2 separate regions of the Homo sapiens genome follow, and region 2 is linked to region 1. Evidence: fine-mapped expression QTL. A gene starts in region 1. The other region holds a variant in brackets. All regions are shown on one strand. Distances are between the middles of the regions. Region 1 holds the start of ASIC1 (acid sensing ion channel subunit 1). Region 2 overlaps DIP2B (disco interacting protein 2 homolog B).

The links. PIP is the estimated chance that this variant, and not a neighbour inherited with it, causes the effect.
Region 2: its variant is fine-mapped to the expression of ASIC1 in whole blood (TOPMed, PIP above 0.99).

Annotation. Positions count from the first base shown.
Region 1 is chr12:50,056,373-50,059,280 of GRCh38, reverse strand. ASIC1 (acid sensing ion channel subunit 1) reads right to left here and starts at 1,685. Exons shown (of 12, transcript NM_001095.4): 1 at 1,365-1,685; 2 at 153-530. The coding sequence starts at 514. RefSeq lists silencers at 1,483-1,652, 1,723-1,882.
Region 2 is chr12:50,668,530-50,671,437 of GRCh38, reverse strand. DIP2B (disco interacting protein 2 homolog B) reads right to left here. Exons shown (of 38, transcript NM_173602.3): 5 at 40-252. Among named protein-coding and RNA genes, the nearest start is that of ATF1, 94 kb to the left of the region's middle. The variant G/A (reference allele first, on the strand shown) is at 1,882.

The sequences.
Region 1 (2,908 bases):
TAACTCCTCTGCTGTGAGTGGCAGGTTTGGGGGTGGGGGTGGGTTAAAGGGCAGGGTTGGCTGGGCTCTATGGTGGGTCAGGGAGGCAGACATCCTGACTGGAACTCAAGCAACTCCAGGAGCAGGGCTGAGGGAGGGTGGGAGCCACCCACCTGTTGTTGAGCAGGGCCAGCAGCTCCCCAGCATGATACAGGTCATTCTTGGAGACTTGGCTAAAGCGGAACTCGTTGAGGTTGCACAGCGTGACAGCAGGGAAGGTAAGCTGAGAGGCAGCCACCTCGTCGAGCTTGGTGACATGGTGGTAGTGGAAGTAGTACTGCACACGCTCCGTGCACACACACAGCAGCACAGCCAGGGAGCCCAGGAAGCACAGGGCCCACAGTGCCCGCTTCAGAGACAGCCGCTCGTAGGAGAAGATGTGGGCCAGGCCGTGCAGTGTGGAGCTGCTGGCGAAGGCCTGGATGCTCACCGGCTGGACGCCACCCACCTCCTCCTCCTCGGCCTTCAGTTCCATCCTTGTTGAGGGGATCCTGGGGGAGGAGGGAGGGACAGTCTATCATTGTCCTGGGATGAAAGTACACATGGAGCCCCTCCACATGTGCCCATCCAGAATCCTCATCTCCAGAGGTCACCACTCCTCGGGCAGAAGACTTCCCTGCTTTGCAAGCCCAGAGGTGGCTGACCAAGGGACACATCCAGGGTTCCTCCAAATACAGAGGCACAGGGGGTCAGGTCAGGCCAAGAGAATGCTCCCCAGAGAAGCTTCCCAGGCCCGGGGAGACCCCAGATATAGTCATCCGAGGTTGAGGGGGAAGTCCTGATGCACCCATAGGCAGGCGCAGGAGTTCCCTCCAGATGTGGGGTCACTCTGGGACAAGAATATCCACCCCATCCTGGAGATGAAAACTCACCCAGATGGGCTGACCCCGGGGTAAGGAGCTCCTGTCCTGGTCACGGGTATTCCCTGGACGGGGCTGTGGTCCTAAGGGCTAAACTGGGGCCAGAAAACCCCCAGGGAGGTGGCTACATCTAGGGAGGGGCCCAGCCTGAGTCCTCACCTGCGGGTGTCTCCAGTTCTCACATAAGCGCAGGCTGTGTGTATGTTGGGAGTGGGGGGTGGCGGGCTGCCCGAGGTGGATGTATGGAGGGGGGGCGCGGTTCCCTATGACAGCGAGCTGTCCCCGCCCCGGACGCAGCCCCCCCCAGTCCAGCTTCTCGTCGCAGTCAGATCCCCAGCTCGGCCCCCGCCCCCCTCCCCAGCCACCGAGCCGCCCCAGCAGCAAGGGAAATCCAGAGGGAGGAGAGTCCCGGCTTCGGGGTACCGAGGAGCCTCGCGGCCAAAGGCAGGGGTATCGGAAACCCACCTGAGGGGGCTTCGGCAAGCCGGCAGCCGGCGGCGGGTCCTGGGGCGCTGGACCGGTGGCGGGCTCAGCGCCGAGTCGCGGAGGGGCTCATGGCCCGGGGCCGGAGCCCGCGGCCGCCGCGGCACGCCGCGCAGAGCCCTGCAGGGAGCGCCCCGCCCGGCCCCGCTCGGCTCCGATCTGTCCGCCCGCCCGCGCGCGCTGGCTCGCTGGCTCGCTCGCCTCGGCTCGGTCTGCCCGGGCTCGGCGCGGTGCGCGGTGCTCTCAGCCCTGGGATCTGCAGGGATCCATCGTCCGGCCGGGAGGCGGCGGGAGGGGAGGGGGAGGGGAGAGGGTGCGCGTGCGCGCCTACGAGTGTCTGCGAGGCTGTCTCTGGGCTGGTGTGCGCGCGGGGCCCCGGATCCGGGAGCGGGACCCAGGGCTCCCCGCGCCGCCTCGCCCCTCCTCGCGGCCGCTTTCGGCGGCGCTGCCTCTCTCCAGTCCCGGAGCCGTCTCCCTGCCTGCGAGGCCCTATGGCTTGTGTGTATGACTCTGTGTGTGGTGTGTGTGCGCGCGCGCGTGTGTGCGCGCAGGAGGGAGGGTGTCTGCCCCTAGCGTCCCTCTCCCCGCGCTGTCTCCTTCGGATCGATGCTCCTGCCTCTTGCTGCTGCTTCCTCTGGTGGCACACACGCGCGTACACACACACATACACACACACGCTCCGAGTCACACTTGACTAATTCAAGCACTTAGCCCATATGGAGACAGACACACATACCGACCAGAGTCACACCACACCATTCACAACCACACCCCCCCGCAACAGATGTCCACGTATCCCGGGGGCCTGACCCACATGGCAAGCACTCACCTGCTCTTATCCCTGCTCCCACCTGCATGTGACACATATACACGTGCACATATGTGAGCCAACACGCAGCCTTGACCACTCAGATCCCATCCTTGTAGCTTTGGGCTTGTGGGGGGCATGGTCGCAACCCCTTACTGCCAAATCTCCAAAGAAGGAGCAGAGAAAAGGAAGGAAAAATAGCCAGAGGTCAAGGGAATTTGGACAGAAGGAAGGAGGCAAAGGGAGTGAAGGGGACAGGGTGAGGAAGGGTTGGAACGGGGAGCTATGCTCAGGGATGGAGCAGAAGTCTCAGCACAGAACGCAGGCCTGGGGGCTGCTCCTGTGGCTCTCACCTTTCTCCTTCCCTGCCTCCCTCCTCTTCTCTGAGAGGCCTTGGGGAGGGGGGCCCTCCCTATCCAATTAACAGAGAAGGAGCAATCAAGGGGAAGTTGTTAATTTGCTGATGCTCATTAGGGGCTCTTAGCACAGAGGCTGTTGAGGTCTGATGGTGTCAGATGATGAGGAGGAGGGTGCGGGGGACCAGAGTTCTGTCTCTAGTGGCTCCTTCGCTCTACTTGCAGGCTGGTGCGGCTCGGGGAGAAGGATGGTGAGAGGTGTATTCCTAGGACATGGTGCCGGGCTTTAAGTTAGAAGAAAACCTGTAACGAGAAGGGGATGGCACATTGGAAAGAAGTTGGATGAGAAGTTGGGAGTAGTG
Region 2 (2,908 bases), 610 kb before region 1:
GAATGTAATTTGGGCTTCTTGGGTAGATCCAGCTCCTACCTATTCGAGTATTGGCAAATACATCAGCTAGAGACCCACTGGTTCCTTTGACCTCTCCGTGGGACAGCGTAGAAGATGCGGATGAAGAAGTGGACGATCCCTGAATTGAACGGTTGATCCAGGACTCAGCATTCTGTAAGCTCTGTTGCAAGGCAGCAGAGAGCGCAGCTTGGCGTCTCAGAGAGCCCTCATCCTCAGAGGCCGAAGATGTGTCTGTGTGGAATTAGAAAAAAAGAAGTTCTCGATCCTACCTAGAACAGAGACTTTTCAGTTCTTGCTCATTGATCACACATTCAGTTTCGACACCAGCAAAACATTCGCATTCTTAAGGTAGATTAATATGTAAAGTTTCTCAAGAATCTCAAGGAAAAGTCTATGGACCAAAGCCTACAAAAATAAAATAGCCTAACTCCATAGGTAATTTTTAATTGTTTTCTTTTAAACTCTTTCAAAACATTTAAACTTTATTCCCTGCTTTTCTGTTGTAAGCTTAATCAGTATCTAAATTTTTCTAGTCCATCTACTTATGTTCAAATAATACTGAAGTACTTATATGTCTTCCTGAATCTCTTCTTGTGGTATGTTGCTACATTGATTTTGACAAAGTACTTATTAGTCTCTAAGGAAATGATCTTGACAGGGAGACATAAAAACTTAATTCTTGCTAAAAACGTATGTGCCAGGCCGGGCGTGGTGGCTCATACCTGTAATCCCAACACTTTGGGAGGCTGAGGCAGGCAGATCACCTGAGGTCAGGAGTTCAAGACCAGCCTGGCCAACACGGTGAAACCCCATCTCTACTAAAAATACAAAAAATTAGACAGGCATGGTGGTGCATGCCTGTAATCCCAGCTACTTGGGAGGCTGAAGCAGGAGAATCGTTTGAACCTCGGAGGCAGAGGTTTCGGTGAGCCACGATCGCACCACTGCACTCTAGCCTGGGCAACAGAGCGAGACTCCAACTCAAAAACAAAAACAAAAAACAAAAAACATACGTGCCAAACAGTGAGCTAGGTGCTAGGGAATGAAGTGGCGTAAACAATCCTTAGCCTGGACTTATTCATGGCCTTAGTAGGAAAGGCAGCCAGTCAGGGTGCACAGGTAAGCTTTCCAAGCATGACAGGAGAAGGCACAGCATCAGTATTTCTTTCTTTAATTTTCAGCTGGAGAAGAATTGTGAGAAATCCACTTATGTCTGTATTCAGCTTGGCTCTGACTTCAGGAAAATAGGCCTAAATTAGAAAAGCGTGCTGGGTGGGGGGTGGGTAAAAAAACTCAACCAAATATAGGGAAGCAAAAGCCGGGGAAAACAGAAGTCAGGAATTTATTTCAGGGTTCTAAGCTTATGAAGCACGCAGTTAAAGAGGGCATTTGGTCTAATGTGAGATAAACCTTTCTAAATGATTTCTGGGTGTTATGATTTACAACTTGTGGATTGAATTTCATTGTTTTTAAAAATTAAACATTCTGTGGTTAGTACTGCAGAACCCTTTCCGTCTAACTCAGGTGACACTGTAGGTTCATGTTCTGCTTTGGTTCAAAGAGCCAAATACATAACCAATGGGGCTGGAAAACTGCTGGCACCTCACAATGGGAACCTGAACCACAAAAGACTCATCTAATCTAGAAGTCAAATTCTGCAGGTCCAGAGCAAGAGAGAAAGTTAAAATAATGGGCCGGATGCAGTGGCTCAGGCCTGTAATCCCAGTACTTTGGGAGGCCGAGGTAGGTGGATCACTTGACGTCAGGAGTTCAAGACCAGCCTGGCCAACATCGCGAAACCCTGTCTTTACTAAAAATACAAAAATTAGCCAGGCATGGTGGTGCACACCTGTAATTCCA[G/A]CTACTCGGGAAGCTGAGGCAGACAAGAATCACTTAAGACCGGGAGGCGGAGGTTGCAGTGAGCAGAGATAGCATCACTGCCCTCCAGCCTGGGAGGCAGAGTGAGACTCCATTTCAAAAACAAAAACAAAAAACCCAGAAAGTTATATAATGACTATACCCTTGCTTCTTGTTCTGTACTACCTCCAACTTATTATTTCATATTGAGGAAGGTCTGAAGCCTGTGACTGTTTTTGCTTTTTAAAAAGTACTAATCACAACATGTGCCAGGAACTATGTCAAGTCCTAGGGGTTGTGAAGTGTATGAGTGCTTATGACACAGTAAGTGCCCTAAAAAGGCTTACAGGAGACACAGAAGCCCACAGATAATTTCAAAAGAATAAAACAGATGCTAAGAAACGGGAGTAATCAAAGGGTTTCGCAGGATGGGAACCAACCACAGTCAGGGATTTCAAGTACTTCTTTGTACATAGAGCAAAGACTTTGAAGAGTAAGGCAAAAAAATGAAAAAAATGAGGGTGGAGAGATAAATAGTGACCAGATCCCAAAGAGATAAAGTGATGAGGTCCATAAAGAAGAATGAGATCTATCATGCAAAAGGGGGGTGATTAAAAGAAAATTTAAAGAAAAAAAGAAGTAATCACATCTGTACCCCTTTAAGGAAAGCATTTTGTGTAATTTTCAGAAAATATTCTAACATTTCAACTGTACCCCGGGACACAAATATTCCTGTCTTAGCAAACATGTTAAAAAAAACAGAGAGGAAGTTGGGATAGGGCCCCTAGGATAGGTGAATTTGACCTTAAGAATAAAGTATTTTCAAGGTAAGTTATCTCAAGATTCCACAATCTCCATTGGATTTGTGGGCTGCTTTTATTGTATCATTTTATTGTATCATTTATATGTATTTTAATTTGTTTAAGTTTAAAATCAGAATAACCCAATTTTAAAAAGACAGTAAAACCAGTATTTTCATGATTAGGTTTATGGAAAATGGGTTTCATTATGTTTCTATATTGGATCAATT